2 separate regions of the Homo sapiens genome follow, and region 1 is linked to region 2. Evidence: fine-mapped expression QTL. Tissue or cell type: thyroid. Region 2 holds a variant in brackets; the other region holds the start of a gene. All regions are shown on one strand. Distances are from middle to middle.

Region 1 (8,101 bases), 100 kb before region 2:
ATGAGTCTGGAGCAGGGGTGGCTCTGGTGGCTTTGGGGTTGTGTGAATGAGTCTGGAGCAGAGGTGGCTCTGGTGGCTTTGGGGATGTGTGAATGAGTCTGGAGTGGGGGCCACTCTGGTGGCTTTGGGGATGTGTGACTGAGTCCCTTTGTCTCTCATTTCCTTAACAGAGGGACATTTCCCTTCCCTGGTCTCAGACACAAATGAGCCCTGCCCAGGGTACCCCGCCACAATACAATTGCTGGGTCCCCCAGCCCCCTCCTCAGACCCAGAAAGCCCCATAAGTGAGAGGAGGGCCCGGTGGGCACCTGGAGGCCTTGTGCCTGCTGGCAGGGGCAGTAGCCGGGTGGGAGCTGTCACGTGGGGCTCAGGCCCAGCAAGACTGTCACCTGATGCTTCAGGGCGGCCAGAATCCGGGTTTCTGTGTCAATCTCTCCGTTGTAAAATGTTGTAAGATGTTGGCCGCACGCAGTTTGGTTTATTTTCCTCCGACGCTGCAGGCCACACAGAGCACACTTAGGGGCTAGACTCCGCCCTTTGTCCCCCAGTTGCCCCCTGCTCTGAGGGTTTGTGACAGCTCTGTCCCCTTGTGGCCTCTGCCTGGGGTTTCTGGCCCCGGGGCAGCCCCGCAGCTGTGCCCTCTCTGCCTGTCACGGCCCAAACCCAGAGCACTAGCACCTTTGCTTGAGCCTCCACTGCCCTCCTGGCGCTGGGCTGTTGGGTGTAGACAGATTTTACACATCTGTGGCTGGGGCCAGGGAGAGGTTATAGCTAATTCCTTAACGCTGACTAGAGATGCCTTTTTTAAAGATCTCTTTAAAATTCCTCAGCCATCCCCACCTCCGGAATTTCTGGCTGGCCGCTTCTCCCAGATGCCTACAGCATTCCCAGCCCCCTGTTTCCCTCCTCCTGCCTCCCACCTCGGGCTGCCCATTTCTCTCTGATTTCTTATCCCAAGCAGTCAGGCCTCCCTCCCTCTCTGGAGCTGGCCCCTCCTGCCAGCCAGGCCCTGCCTGTGGTCAGCAAGCTTGGGACCAGGCTGTGCTGAGCCCACAAAGCCAGTCCTCTCCTGAGAGCCAGCCTCCGGCGTGGGAAACCATTTCATCCCATCCGGATCCCTGGCGGTTCTGCTTTGCTGCGTTTACACCAGTGGCCATGACGGAGATTCTCGCTCACATCTGTCCAGCCTGGGCACTTTTATGAGGCATTTTCACCAGTGGGGTCCAATGTAATCCCTTTATTCTTATGAGATAAATGTTCATCCATCCGTTAAACCAAATATCTATGAAGCACCCAGTCTGTGCTAGGCACGGGGACTGTAGCAGTGAACAAGTTGTTACGGTTCTTGCCCTCCTGGCTTATGGCATAGGATGGAAAAAAAGTCATCGGGTGACAACAGGACGCCCCCTGAGCCTAATTGAGAGTGAAGGCGGTCAGAGACAGGGGCAACTAACTTCTCTGAAAGACGTTCTAGGGCAGGGGAGGGACCCGCAGCTGGAGGGCAAGCAGGTCTCAAAGGCCCCTCCGAGGAGTCAAGGATCTGGGCTTTATCCTCTGTTTTCATTCTTTTCAGAGACAATTCAGTACATGCTTTAGTATTTTTATATGTTTTTTGTTGTTGTTTTTGTTTTTTTTTTTACAGCAGTAAGGTAGGAAATCCTTGTCTGGCCATGAAATTTGGTTTGGGATCTAAAAGATACAGTGTTCCCGTAAGTTTGAGAGCGTGGGCTAGGCACAGTAGTTCATGCCTGTAATCCTAACACTATGGGTGGCCAAAAGTGGGAGGACTCCTTGAGTCCAGAAGTTTGAGACCAGCCTGGGCAACATAGCAAGACCTTGTCTCTATTACAAAATTTTTTAAAAATTAGCCAGGGAGCCGGGCACAGTGGTTCATTCTTGTAATCCCAGCACTTTAGGAGGCCGAGGTGGGAGGATCACCTGAGGTCAGGAGTTTAAGACCAGCCTGGCCAACATGGTGAAACCCCATCTCTACTAATAAATAAAAAAATCAGCCAGGCGTGGTGGTAGGTGCCTATAATCTCAGCTACTCACTAGATTGAGGCAGGAGAATCACTTGAACCTGGGAGGCAGAGGTTAGCAGTGAGCCATGATTGCGCCATTGCACTCCACAGGCGACAAGAGCGAAACGCCATCACACACGCAAAAAATCAGCCAGGCATGGTGGCACATGCCTTGTAGTCCCAGCTATTCAGGAGGCTAACGTGGGAGGGTTGCTTGAACCCAGGAGGTAGAGGCTGCAGTGACCACAGTGGTGCCACTGCATTCAACCTGGGCCAAAAAGTGAGACTCTGTCTCAAAAAGAAAAGAAAACGTGTACAGCACTTGACAGTTAGTTTATAAAGCACCTGTTGCTGCCTGTGGGCCCCAAGCTGCCTGTGAGATGAACCGTTCCATCCCGCTTTACTGATGAGCAAGTTTGTCTGTTTATGTCTCTGTCTCCCAAAGACGATGGTATTTATGTCTGGAACACAGGAGGTACTCAGGAGACACTGGTTGATTTGCACTAAACAAAGACTCTTCATGAGGCTCTCTTACTTTTTATTTTATTTTATTATGATGATGATGATTTTTGAGACGGAGTTTTGCTGTTGTTGCCCAGGCTGGAGTGCAGTGGCGAGATCTCAGCTCTCTGCAACCTCTGCCTCCCAGGTTCAAGCGATTCTCCTGTCTCAGCCTCCTGAGTAGCTGGGATTACGGGCATGCACCACCACGCCCAGCTAATTTTGTATTTTTAATAGAGATGGGGTTTCTCCATGTTGGCCGGGCTGGTCTTGAACTCCTGACCTCAGGTGATCCTCCCACCTCGGCCTCCCAAAGTGCTGGGATTACAGGCATGAGCCATCACCTCTCTCTTACATTTTATATGGGGCCCTCCCAGCTCCTGGAGCTGTGGCTGTCACCCCCCATCTGATGGAGGGGTCAGGTGAGCCTTGTGGGAATCCCAGAAGCTGGGGACTGGGAAGGGCCCTGTTCAAGGGGCTGGACGCTCCCTGTGGTGAAGCCCAACTCTACCATTTGTTGATTGCACAATGTTGGCACAATGTTGGGCAAGTTATTTCACTCTGTGAGCCTCAATGTCCTCAACTGGAAAATGGGGAGAAGAATAATCTCTACCTCACGGAAGTAGTTCATGTTAGTTCATGTGAAATCAGACATCTAAAAGTGCTCTGCGAAGCAGGCAGGAAGCACCGGCTGTGCCCTGCCTTCACTGGGATCACTCTGCCCCCACCACAGGGACTTGGGAAACTGCTTGGTTTTACCATCCAAGAGACCTGGGGGTGGGAGATAAGGAGCAAACCCTCTACTTCTTCAAGCCCTCACTCCAGCAAATCCTCCAGGCAGCCAGGCAATGCTGAAGTCCCTGTCCAAGGGGGTCTAGGCTGAGCCCGGGTGGAGTGGGTTCTTGGGCCAAGGTGCCTGGAGGGGACTGAAGGCCTCTACCCAAAGTCCTCATGAGAACTGGGTGGGGGAGCCTGTGTTCAGGTGAGGGGTACGGAGGCACCTCTGTGGCACAGCCTTTGCGAGGAGGGCTGTGGAGGGAGACCTCCGGGGCCGGGGTCGAAGGACATCGTGTGGGCGCGACCGCAGTGCTGGGCGGGGGGCGGGCGCTTGGGCTTGGGCCCTGCGTCCTGTGCGTGTTGGTTTCCTGTGGGCACGTGGGGCCCTCGGAAGAGGGGAGGAGGGTGAGCACGTCCTCAGAGGGCAGACCCAGCGAGGCGTCGTGGCAGCTGCGGCCGCGGAGACGCCGGCTCCGCCTCTTGCACACGCCCCCTCGCCTGAGGCCCCGCCCCGCCCGCGATGCCCCCGCCCCCTTCCCCGCCCCGCCCCCCGGGGCGCCGAGACCCGCCCCTGGGCCCGCCCCCGGGTCCGCCCCCGGCCTCCGTTTGCGCCGGGTCTGTGCTGGCCGCGCGCCTGGCGCTCCACGCTGAGCCTCTCCGTGCAATGATTAACCCGGCGGGGCGGCCGGCGCGGGACCCGAGACGGAGGCGCGGGGCCGGGGCGGGACCCCGCAGGACCGCTCGGCTTCCTGCTCTCGCCGGAGTTTCCGCGTAGAGGGCGCATCGCCGGCCCGGGGCCCTTGGTGCGGCGTGGCGCAGGGCGCGGCGTGGGGCGCGCGTGGGCGCGGCGCAGGCGGCCCGGGTCACCATGAGGACTCTCCGCAGGTTGAAGTTCATGAGTTCGCCCAGCCTCAGTGACCTGGGCAAGAGAGAGCCGGCCGCCGCCGCGGACGAGCGGGGCACGCAGCAGCGCCGGGCCTGCGCCAACGCCACCTGGAACAGGTAAGGCCGCGCCCTCCCGGCCACCCGGAGGCCCTGGAGCCGGGGGAGGGGACCCCTGAGCCGTCCGCGGGCTAGGGGCCGCCCCGAGCCAGGAACGCTGCCGAAGGCGGCGCGGCGCTTCACAGTTTGCAAAGAACTTGCCCCGCCGGAGTGGTGCGGGCCTGGAGGAAAGTTCAGTGCAGCGTGGTTCCAGAACCCAGGGAAGGGAGCGAGGCCCGCCAGCGCCCGGGGCTGGCCCAGAAGCGCCCGGCGGGTGGGCGGCGGGGTGGGCCGGGAAGCCGCGTGCCCGCCTCCTACCCGGGGTCTTTCCACGTCTCCACTGCGGTGCTCGTGACAACCTGGGAGGCTAACGGAGCAGGAAGTATTTTTCCCATTTTGCGGCTGAGCACGGGAGCCTCGGGGCTCAGTGGGTGGGTCGCGCAGGCTTCCTGTGTCTCTTTAAGCTCCCTTCGGCTTTCCCTTGAGAGGCCCCCTGTCCTCCAGCTGTCAGCAGGGGGTGCGGCAGCTGCGAGGCATTCTTTAGAGGACTCTCCTCCAGGGGTCATTCCCAGACAAGCAGGGGCCTGGGAAGCCCCTTCTCCCAGCTTTGTTTGAGGAGCAAGTCCGGGATCTGGAAAAGAGACGGTTTATTTAGTGGAACTCCCCAGCGTCTCTGCTCCCTAGGAAAATGAGAGGCAGGAGAAAGTGAGGCAGGCTGTTCGCGGGAGGCAGTGGACACTGTTCGGGGGAGGCTGTGGACACTGTTCGGGGGAGGCTGTGGACGTTGCCCCTCTCGCGCCCACACCTGGCAGTAAAATCTTGCCAGATGCTCCACCGGCTGTGGTCTTGGCCACCGGGAACCCGGCTGTCACTTGGACACACGTTATTTTCAGTTCATTGAATGCATTGTGAGCGTCATGGTGGGCTCAGGGCTGCCAGCGAGACCCTCTTCAAACGTGGTCTCTTCTGTCTCTGAGTTGCAAACTGCTAGAGGGCTGTCACATGCCTGCCTCCGTTTCCCTCTCCGTCAGTGGGTATTCGCATTCCTCCCTGTGGGGAGGGCTGGTGTGGGAACAGTGAAGGAAGGACTCCTGTTGGGAAATCTCCCTGACCCAACGACTGCACAGTGTCTTAAGAGCTGTGTTCTCCACCAGGCACGGCGGCTCACACCTGTAATCCTAGCACTTTGGGAGGCCAAGATGGGAGGATTACTTGAGCCAGGGAAGTCGAGGCTGCCATGAGCCATGATGCCACCACTGCACTCCAGCCTCGGTGACAGAGCAAGACCCTATCTCAAAAAAAAAGAAGAGCAGTGTTCTCCTCCAGTATTGAGATGAAAGCCATCTCTCTGTCCTTGAATCTCTGCCGTGATTTAGAGGAAAGAGTTAAATAGACTTATTTCAAATCCCAACTCTGCCTCTTCCCTACTCTGTGGTCTTGAGCAAGTCAGGTCCTCAATTTCCTTATCCATAAAACGGGCAGATAACAGTGCCCACCTCATGGGGCTGTTGTAGGGATGAAATTTGAACATGCAAAATAAAGCCCTCAACACAGTGCTTAGCACATAGTAAGTCCTCTGTACCTCACAGCTCAACCCCAGACTCACGCAGTGGACCAGTGTCGGGGTGTCCCTGTAGGGATGGCATTTGGAGGGCTCCACAGGAATCAGTCAGTTCCTGAGCACCCACTGACAGCCACTTGGTGAGCTCCCTCCCACCCCCGAGGTGGGGCGTCCTGCTGCGGGTCCCCAGACAGGTGGGGGCACTGGCTGGTTGCTGGCTTAGACACTGCCCTCACCCAACCTTGGGTGACCCTGGAGTGGGCTCTGAGTCTCAAGTGTCTTCTCAGAGTTCAGGGAGGCCTCAGGGGGACTCTGCCTGAGCAACCCCCGCCCCACCAGATTTCACTCAGCAGCCTGGCAGATTGCAGAGAAATGCCAGCCCCTCCCCGCGGCACCTGCAGGGCTCCAGGTCTCCCAGCCCTTAGGCCTACATCAGCTCCCACCACCCCAGGCAGCAGGGGCACGGCCATTTCCTGCACTCCTCTTATGTGCCAGGCCCCAGGCCAGCCCCGTTCACTGCCCTTAACTGACTTTGCCACTCTCCTAGCCCAGCGAGGTATTACCAGCACCCCCCACCGAGAGATGCAGAAGGGCAGAGAGAGCACCCAGGAGACATGCCCAGCTCATCCATCACCTGCACAGGATGCAGCAGAGCCTGCGCCCCAGCTCTCCTCCCCAGCAGATGTGGGAGATGGAGCCAAGAGAAGGCAAACTGGCTTCACCAGCCAAGTCCCTGAGTGGAAACTGCAGGGAGCAGGGCACCCCTTCTGGTCCCTGTCTGCATGCTCCTGCTCCTAGCGGTGCTCCCTGCCAGGGCCCCCTAGGACAACAGATCTGTGCAGGGTCGGGGACAGGCGTGTCATTCTGCAGGGCCTGGCCGTGTACTCCTCATTATGAGTCCAAGACACACCCCCTTTTATCTGTGTGACTGTATTAGCTTCCCAGAGCTGCTGTAACAAAGACCACAAACTCGGTGGCCTAAAACAGCAGAAATTTGTTCCCTCACAGTTCTGGAGCCAGAAGCTTGAAGTCCAGGTGTCGCTCCCACCAGAGGCTCTAGGGGAGGAGCTTCTTGAAGCTTCTGGTGGCTCTTTGGCTTGTGGCTGCATCACTCCAATATGTACCTCCCCATGGCTTTCATTTCCACGTCCAAATCTCCCTCTCCTTTCTCTCTCTCTATTTTTTTTCCTTTCTTGAGACGGAGTTTCACTCTTGTCCAGGCTGGAGTGCAATGGTGTGATCTCAGCTCACTGCAGCTTCTGCCTCCTGGGTTCAAGCAATTCTCCTTCCTCAGCCTCTGGAGTAGCTGGGATTACAGGCGCCCACCACCACGCCCGGCTAATTTTTTGTACTTTTAGTAGAGACGGGGTTTTGCCATGTTGGTCAGGCTAGTCTCTAACTCCTGACCTCAGGTGATCTGCCCACCTCGGCCTCCCAAAGTGCTGGGATTACAGGTGTGAGCCACCGTGCCCAGCCTCTTTTTTGTTTTCTTTTGAGACGGAATCTTGCTCTGTCACCCAGGCTGGAGTGCACTGGTGCAATCTCAGCTCACTGCAACCTCCACCTCCCGGGTTCAAGTGATTCTCCTGTCGCAGCCTCCCTAATAGCTGGGATTACAGGCGTGCACCACCATGCCCAGCTAATTTTTGTTTTTGTTTTTGAGGTGGAGTCTCACTCTGTCACCCAGGCTGGAGTGCAGTGGTGCAATCTCAGCTCATTGCATTCTCCGCCCCCACAGGTTCAAGCAATTCTCCTGCTTCAGCCTCCCAAGTAGCTGGGATTGTAGGCGCCCACTACCATGCCACCATGCCCAGCTAATTTTTGTATTTTTAGTAGAGACAGGGTTTCACCGTGTTGGCCAGGCTACTCTCAAACTCCTGACCTCTGGTGATCCGCCTGCCTCAGCCTCCGGAAGTGCTGGGATTACAGGCATGAGCCACCACACCAGGCTCCCTCCCCTTTCTCTTGTAAAAACACTAGTTATTGGATTTAGGGCCCATCCTTAGTTAAGGATCATCTCCAGGTCCTTAATTAAATACCGCTGCAAAGACCCTATTTCCATCAAGTGTAAGGCTTGCTCTGTCATGAGAACTGAGTCATTGATTGATTGATTGATTCATTCATTCATTCGTTTATTCATTCATTCATTGACTGTGCCAGCACTGGGCTGCTCAGGGCATAGATTCAGCAGAGAACAGCCTCCTGGAGCTTAGAGTTCCCAGAGGGAGGCATTGGTAAATAAACAAGGAGGTAAGTAAAT
Region 2 (8,101 bases):
CAGGACGTGGAAGGGGCCGAGTGAGGGGGTGCCTGGGCCCCATGTCCCTTGTACACTCCCAGTGCCACCCAGGTGCGCATGGGCTCCACAGCTGGTACAGGGTGGGGGGCCGTAGAAAATCAAGGTTGTTGTTAGTTTGCCATACCAACAAGCATCAGGAGCATTCAGAAGGGGAGGTCTCAGGCAGTTTCCCAAACTAACTTGGGCAAGGAACCTTTTACTGCATTGAACAGAACCCTTTGAAGGGACGGGCCCAGGGGCCCTCATAGCCACCAAAGCTGTGTGTGGCCTCTCCCTGTACATTACCCCTCCTGGGTCTACACCTTCTGTTCCCCCAGCCTTTGCATGCAGCACCCCCAAACACATCGTCCCTTGCATATGTCCCCTTGTGTGCTTACCTGCGTTCTGTGCCAGTCCCCTACTGTGGCTGTCCTCTCTCCACCCCCCACCACTATGCAGACACCACCTCCCATGCACACACCCCCTCCCATGCACACACCCCCTCCCGTGCACACACCCCCTCCCAGGAACACACCCCCCCATGCATGCACCTCCTCTCATGCACCCACCCTCTCCCATGCACACACCCCCTCCCATGCACACACCCCCTCCCAGGAACACACCCCCTCCTGTGCACACATACCTGCTCTCATACACACACACCTCTTGTGCACACGCTTCTCCATCACTAAGTTGACTAAGTCACATGCTCAGCACAGACTGGGTGTTCAGAGTGAAAGACTAACCTAAAGTAGATTGACTCATGGGTCCTTAGATGGCTGTCACATGACCCCCAGGCCACCAGACCCACCTGCAGGACTGAGCCTTCTCCAGCCCAAAGCAGCTTTGGGTCCACAGTCTTGAGCGTGGGCCCGGGCCTCACGCCCTCTTAGGTCTGCCTGCTTCCTTCCCTCCCTCCATCACCCTCCTCAAAGCCACATGGGCCTCGCACCCTGCACCCTCTGCATTGGCCGTTTCCCATTGCTCAGAAGGAACCACCTGTTCCTCACCTGTGTATGGCCTTGGGCGCCCTGTCATCCTCTTTCATCTGTCCCTTGCTGCTGGTGTCTGCTGTGCTGGCCACACTGCTTTCATAAGGCGGCCACCGAGCCTCCTTCCTGGTGAAACTCCCCGGCCCAGGAGAGCTGCTGCTGGGGGAGAGTTGGCAAAATAGCGAGAGCAGCACCTCTGCTGGAATCCCTGTCTGTGTGAGTGAGAGGCCCCCAGGCCCAGGGGAGAAGCTCAGTCTTAGTGAAGGGAAGTTAGGTTCTGAGGGCCTTGGAATTTGCTCCCCGACAATGAACTGATTGAGCTTCATTTCTGAGGCCAAGCCCTGGCCGATCTCTGGGTGTCCCTGGAAACATTTATGTGCCCTTGTGAGGACAGGGAGCACGGCACCTGGCCTGCTGCAGACTCCCTCACTGCTGGGGACAGCTCAGGACGTGACCCTGGCGGGGAGGCTGTGCCTGCCACCACTTCCAGATGCCAGCATCTAACTGCTAAAGCCAAGGGACTCAGGGAGTGGGCTCGACCTGGAACCCCCAACTCAAGATGAACAAAGGCATGATCGGACATAGAAGCACCCAGAAGACTTTGGGCTGGTTGCTTCATGAGAGTCCCCCCAATATATGCATTCTATCTGGTCTGTTAAAGAATCTTCTGACCACAGCTGAAACTGCAGTGGCAAAGGCAGAGACCTGGCGGGGAGCAGGTGCCGGGAGCGACTTCCACCAGTGCACCAGTGCTGCTGCTGCACGGCGAGACCTGCAGGATTCATGGGGCGAGCTTGGATCCTGGTGCTGATTACCCCAGACAGTGAGGCTGGCTTTCCCCAGGAGGTGCTCACCCCAGTGAGGAGCCGATGCCAGCCTGCAGCCCACTCTTGGTGTTTACCAGGCACACAGGGAGAGATGGATGCTAGATCCAGGAAGAGCTCGTCTCCTGGGGTCCTCTTGAGAGGACGCATTCCCTTGTCAGGTCATTTAGGCACGGAAAGACCTGTGACCTGTGGGTCAGCTCTCCCCGAGGAGGCTGCTGCTGGGCCAGGAATGAGCTCACGATTTGCTGTTCTTATAAAGACAAAAGTGCCTGCAAAGACAGAAAGCGAATTGGTGGTTGCCGGGTACCGGGAGTGTGATGGGGAGAATGACTGTTGAACAGGTCTCAGTTTTCTTTTGGGGTGATAACAGTGTTTCAGAGCTGTAGAGAGGGGGTAATTGCACAGCTTTGTGAATGTACTAGATGCCTGAATTGTTCACTTGAAAGTGGTTAATTTATGTTATGTGAATTTCAACTAAATTGGACAAAAAGCACCCCTGACAACAAATTGGTACCTTGTGCTCTTTTATGTGCTTATCCAAGATTCCTTTACTATTAGGTGGAAGTAGTAAGCATGGCTTCCATGAACAGTTGTATAGGTTGTTCACAGCACAAGGCTAACCAGATGAGAAGCTACCATCACCTGGTGCTTTTTTCACTCAGCGTGGGACAAGCATCTGCCCAGAGGAAAAGGCATCTTTTTCTAACTCATGCAAAGGTGCTCTGTGGGCTTCTCGGCCTTGATAAGAAGAGCCATCAGGCTTACTTCTCCGCAGCCTTTATGAAAAAAATTAACACCCCGTACATTATCCTCCCTATCCATTCCAACCGGATGGCTTTCTTGTGGCCAGATGCATGCTCCTATTTTTGAAGCGGGTGAAGAAACAAGTCTATGTCTTTGAAACCCAACTAGTAATTTAGTTAATGACTTCCTGTGCTGAGCACGCGGGCAGATGCATTGACACTCAGAGGATTTCAGTGTGCTGAACAGAAGGCACTGGGGAGAGCCCAGCGCTGGGGCCAAAGGAAGGGTGCCTGCTTTTACAAGGAGGCGCCCAGAGTGGGAAGAGGAGCTGTGCAAAGACATTGGCCTCAGTTTCCCTCTCTTGAAAAAGTCATTTGCGAAATACAAAAGTGGCTATCCTGAGAAGTGAGGAGGAGTGAAGAGTTCTCAGTGGTTCGTGGACTCTTCCACCCCTCTGTGTTCAGGTGGAAGTCTCGACCTGGGTTTTTCTGAGAAAGTGACTCAATAAAGGATGACCTTGGTGAAGTATGCCCCGGTGGCTTAGCCCACATGGTGTTCGAGACAGCACTCTGGAAAATGAGTTTTGAAGTTACTTCCACAACGGGTGAGCTGAAATCATGCATGGTGTGAGGTCAGATGTGCGTGATTTCTCTACATCAAAGCAGACAACGGGATGGGAGCAGGCGTGGATGGCAGCCCACAGTTCTCAGAGACGCTGAGTGTGTGGAAGCTGGAGCCAGGCCACTTGGTTCAAAGCCCAGCTCTGCCCCTTACTGATTCACCTCTGTGAGTCTCAGTTGACTTGTCTATAAAATGGAGATAATAGTACCTGGCTCCTAGGGTCATTGGGAGAATTAAACGTGTAGAAGGCCTGCAGTTCAGGTGGTATGGGCTTTTGTCAGAGGGCACTCTGACATCACTTAGAAATCAAACGCACAGGCCGGGCACGGTGGCTCATGCCTGTAATCCCAGCACTTTGGGAGGCCGAGGCGGGTGGATCACGAGGTCAGAAGATCAAGACCATCCTGGCTAACTCAGTGAAACCCCGCCTCTACTAAAAATAATAGTAATTAAAAAAAATTAGCCGGGCGTGGTGGCAGGCGCCTGTAGTCCCAGCTACTCAGGAGGCTGAGGCACGAGAACGGCGTGAATCCAGGAGGCGGAGCTTGCAGTGAGCC[G/A]AGATCACACCACTGCACTCCAGCCTGGGTGACAGACTCTGTCTCAAAAAAAAAAAAAAAAGAAATCAAACGCACACAGGAGAAGCTGGCATCCTTGGTCTCCAGGCTTCCGGGCAGTGCGGGACCAGCCGAGCCTCTGCAGGTGGGCACAGGCTGCTGCGGCTTTCTCCCGAGGCAGTTCTGGGAGCTTCTGTCTGCAGAGCACCCCACCCACAGCCTCAGAGAGTGGGGCCACGTGGGTGGGTTAATTACAAGATGTGCTCCAGGTGAGAACCTGGACAACCTGAGCTGAGGGATCATGGCCTGACCGGCTCAGTGTCAGGCCCTGCAGAGTGCTGGTGGAGGGTTAGGGGGTCCTTCTGGAGCCCTTCCTTCTGCAGATGGCAGGGCAAGCCCTTTCCCACAGGTGACATGAAGACAGTGCTTGCTAGGTGCAGCAGGGCAGGATGGAACGTGGTCCATGGGAAATGGGTAGAGCCTACACCATAGGGGGTGGCGGGCGACAGACGCAGAGCACAGTGTCAGGACTCTGGCTTTGTAATGAAAAGCAAAATGTTAGGAGCTCACCTGGAGGGAAGGAATTGCTTGCCTTAGAAATGCAGCAGGCAGCCGGGTGTCTGAGGTAGAAGGGCCTGTGGTGTTGGGGGTCAACGGCAAGGGCTGAGCAGTCAAGCATTCCTGGGTTCAAATCCCAGCTCATCCTCCTTGTGAGTTTCCCGGGGCTGCCGTAACCATGATCGCAAATGTGGTGGCGTAAAACCAGAAATGTATTCTCTCACAGTTCTGGATGCCAGAAGTTCAAAATTGAGGTGTGGCCAGGGCCGTGCTCCCTGGGAAGGGAGAAGCCCTTCCTTGCCTGTCCAGCCCATAAAGGCTGTCAGCAGTCCTGGGCCTTCCAGGGCTGGTGGCCACATCATGCTGTCGTCGACACTCTGCTTTGCCTCCGTCTTTACGTGACCTTCCGCCCTCTGACTTCTCATCTTCGTGTCTGCCTTAGAAGGATGCATGTGATTGCACTGAAGGTCCACCTGGGTAGTCCAGGATGAGCCCCTCCTCTCAAGGTCCTAAATTTAATTGCACCTACAAAGACCTTTTTCCCAGATAAGGTCACATTCTCAGGCTCCACGGATTTGATATGGATGTCTTTCCACGGGCAACAATCTGGCCTACCACATCCACTTACTAGCTGTGTGACTTTAGATAAGTCACTTAACGTCTCTGAGCCTCAGATGTCATCTGGGAAATGAGGACCGGGGCCCACGGTGCATGGAGTCTCCATGTGGCCCGGTGCTGGCACCTACTGGGTGACCATAGCTTCCATTATAGGGAAAGCACGTTTGGTTTCAATAATGAGTAGGTGATTTTCATAACTGAATCTTCTGTGTTGTGCCCAGGTATTTGAAGTACACACTGGACCAATACGTTGAGAACGATTATACCATCGTCTATTTCCACTACGGGCTGAACAGCCGGAACAAGCCTTCCCTGGGCTGGCTCCAGAGCGCATACAAGGAGTTCGATAGGAAGTACGTGCCCGCAAGCCTTCAGGGACGTGGGTGTGGGCTGCTTGTGGCAGGAGGAGGCATTGTGGCCACAAGGGGTCGCAGAGTGTGCAGTGGGGGAGGGGTCTGGTAGGGCGGAGGGTGGAGGGTGAGCAAATGTGGGGCAGTGGAGGTTCACCTCCCCTCTGGGCCAAGCTCTGGAATCCCGGGCAGGGGTTGGCACTCATTTTTTTTTTTCTTTCTTTCTTTTTTTTAAGAGACGGTCTCACCCAGCCACCATGGCTCACACCTGTAATCCCAGTACTTTGGGAGGCCAAGGTGGGTGGATCACCTGAGGTCAGGAGTTCGAGACCAGGCTGGCCAACATGGCGAAACCCTGTCTCTAGTAAAAATACAAAAAAAAAAAAACCAAAAACAAAAACAGAGACAGTCTCGCCCTGTTGCCCAGGCTGGAGTGCAGTGGTGCAATCATGGTTCACTGCAGCCTCGGCCTCCTGGGCTCAAGCAGTCCTCTTGCCTCAGCCTCCTGAGTAGCTGGGACTACAGGCGTTCACCACCATGCCTAGCTAATTTTTGTATTTTTTTTTGTAGAGACGGGGATCTCACTATGTGGCCCAGGCTGGTCTCGAACTCCAAGCTCAAGCGATCCTCCCACCTCAGCCTCCCAAAGTACTGGGATTACAGGCAGGAGCCACCATGCCAAGCCAACACTCTTGTTCTTAAAGGGCCAGACAGTCAGCATTTTAGCTTTGCAGGCCTGTTGCTCTATTGCAACAACTCTGCTGGACTGTGTTCCAGTAAAACATTATGGACGCTGAAATGTGAATTTCATGTCATTTTCACGTGTCATGAAATATTCTTCTGTTTTTTTTTTTCAACCACTTAAAAACATAAAAAGCCATTTTTAGCTTGCAGCCTGTACCAAAGCAGGAAGCAGGCTAGGTTCATCCTGCCTGCCCATTCTCCCACCCCTGGTCCAGTGAATTACTGGCAAAGAAACAACTGCATGACCGTTTCTTCACTAAAGCCTCTTCTTGCTTTCACAGCCCTTTACAGTCTGCAAGGGGCATTCTGATGCCTCTTGTTGGTGAGATGGCAGCCTCATTTTACAGATGAGGACATAGGCCCCAGGGAGCAAGTGACTTACCCGTGGTCACTCAGCTTGTGTGTGGTAGGGCAGGATCCCACCCCAGGCCCCCGCCTCCCTCTCCCACCCAACGCTACTCACCGCTTGGCCATGGCCTGGAGCCGGCAGACTTTTCCTGAGGGACGTCCGGCCTAATAATCAACTTGGCAATATATCTGGCTCGTAGACTGCGGCGATGGGCGTTGATGTGGATATCCTAGATTCCTCTGGGTTTTCCTTCTTCAAAGTCCTTTCAAACCTGTAACAGAAATCTGCTTCACAGATATCTGAGTCAGTGGGACAGTGGAAGGCAGTGCCTGAATGTCCCAGAAGTCCTCCCTCCAGTTGCCTTTTGGGTCCTGCTGTCATTATCAATAGGACCTTCGGAGGGACTTCTTGGTTCCCCATCCTATGTCTTAGGGAAAGAATTGTTGCTGTATTTTGCAGTCATTTACTGGGCACCTGTATAAGCTGGAGATGGCCTAGCCCCAGCGCATGTCCTCCTCCAGGAAGGCTTCCTGGGTTGTCCTGGGAGAATCAATAGCCCCTTCCCTGCAGCCTCACTGTGCCTAAGCAGACACCAATCCTAGCTAGCACTTAGGGGTTTGTGAACAGGTCTGCCTCCTGCACTAGGCTGTGATCCCGGACCTGTCTCTGCATCCCTTGCAGGTGGGAAAGGATCTGCATATGGCAGCCTTTTTTTTTTTTTTTTTTTTTTTGAGACAGAGTCTCATTCTATTGCCTGGGCTGGAGCACAGTGGCGAGATCTCGGCTCACCACAACCTCCACCTCCCAGGTTCAAGTGATTCTCCTGCCTCAGCCTCCTGAGTACCTGGGACTACAGGCGTGAGCCACCATGCCCGGCTAATTTTTGTATTTTTAGTAGAGACGGGGTTTCACTATGTTGGCCAGGCTGGTCTTGAACTCCTGACCTCGTGATCCGCCTGCCTTGGCCTCCCAAAGTGCCGGGATTACAGGCGTGAGCCACTGTGCCCAGCCGGCAGGCTTTTATTAAGCGTTAGATGGGAGGATAGAGGAGTGAAGTGGTACTGGCAGGAAGTACCAAGGTTCCAGCTGGCGTAATCAGGAAGGCTGCATGGAGGAAGCAGCCTTTGAGCTGCCTGTGGAGTGGTGGGCAGGGTGTTGTGAAGTGGCAATCACTGGATTTTGCTTCTGGTACGAGGTGTGGCCAGATGCAAGAAAGAGCAGGGTGGACTTTGGTGCAATTGGTGGGGGTCTGGTCTGTAGGGTTCCCGTGGGGAGCCGTGGAGGGAGGCAGCAAAGGAGGGAGGGGCACAGAGGATGCTGGACTGTGTTTAAGAGGCAGCAGGGAGCCATGGCAGGTGCTTGAGGAGAAGCGAGTGATGTGTTTAAAGCAGCCCTTTCAGGAGGCTCAGGCTCACAGCAGGATGTGCACAGTAGCCCTGTCTTGAGCTAAAGCAGATGAAGGTTTTGCCCTCTGCACTTCCCCACGTGAGAAACGAAGATGCACCCGCAGATTCCTTGAGGCAGCTCCCCCACTTCTCAGTTGCCAGAAATCAGCCCAGAGAAACAAACCCGTAATCAGCCCAGGGTGCTTTCCCTTCCCTTTCTCGAGGGGGCTGCTGGTTCGCACATAAGGAGTGGGTCACTCCCGCTTGGGAGAAAGCAGCAGAATTCCTTCACAGCCAGGTAAGATGTGCCAGTGGTCGATGGATGAAATCTAGCCGGGGAGTTGGAATCTGTGTTGCCA

Which allele goes with the higher level. Positions count from the first base shown, and alleles are read on the strand shown. Sizes are in standard deviations (SD) of each study's normalised expression.
For the expression in thyroid of the gene that starts at base 3,897 in region 1, allele A in region 2 goes with a higher level than allele G (moderate effect, 0.48 SD a copy in GTEx).

What was found. PIP is the estimated chance that this variant, and not a neighbour inherited with it, causes the effect.
Region 1: it holds the start of PRR5-ARHGAP8, and the variant in region 2 is fine-mapped to the expression of PRR5-ARHGAP8 in thyroid (GTEx, PIP above 0.99).

What each region holds. Positions count from the first base shown.
Region 1 is chr22:44,698,308-44,706,408 of GRCh38, forward strand. PRR5-ARHGAP8 (PRR5-ARHGAP8 readthrough) reads left to right here and starts at 3,897. Exons shown (of 15, transcript NM_181334.6): 1 at 3,897-4,301. The coding sequence starts at 4,168. It overlaps PRR5 (proline rich 5), which reads left to right and starts at 3,897. Exons shown (of 8, transcript NM_181333.4): 1 at 3,897-4,301. The coding sequence starts at 4,168. RefSeq lists an enhancer at 982-1,522 and a silencer at 3,771-4,180.
Region 2 is chr22:44,803,172-44,811,272 of GRCh38, forward strand. PRR5-ARHGAP8 (PRR5-ARHGAP8 readthrough) reads left to right here. Exons shown (of 15, transcript NM_181334.6): 7 at 5,136-5,267. It overlaps ARHGAP8 (Rho GTPase activating protein 8), which reads left to right. Exons shown (of 12, transcript NM_181335.3): 4 at 5,136-5,267. Among named protein-coding and RNA genes, the nearest start is that of ARHGAP8, 55 kb to the left of the region's middle. RefSeq lists enhancers at 3,322-3,877, 3,878-4,433. The variant G/A (reference allele first, on the strand shown) is at 3,742.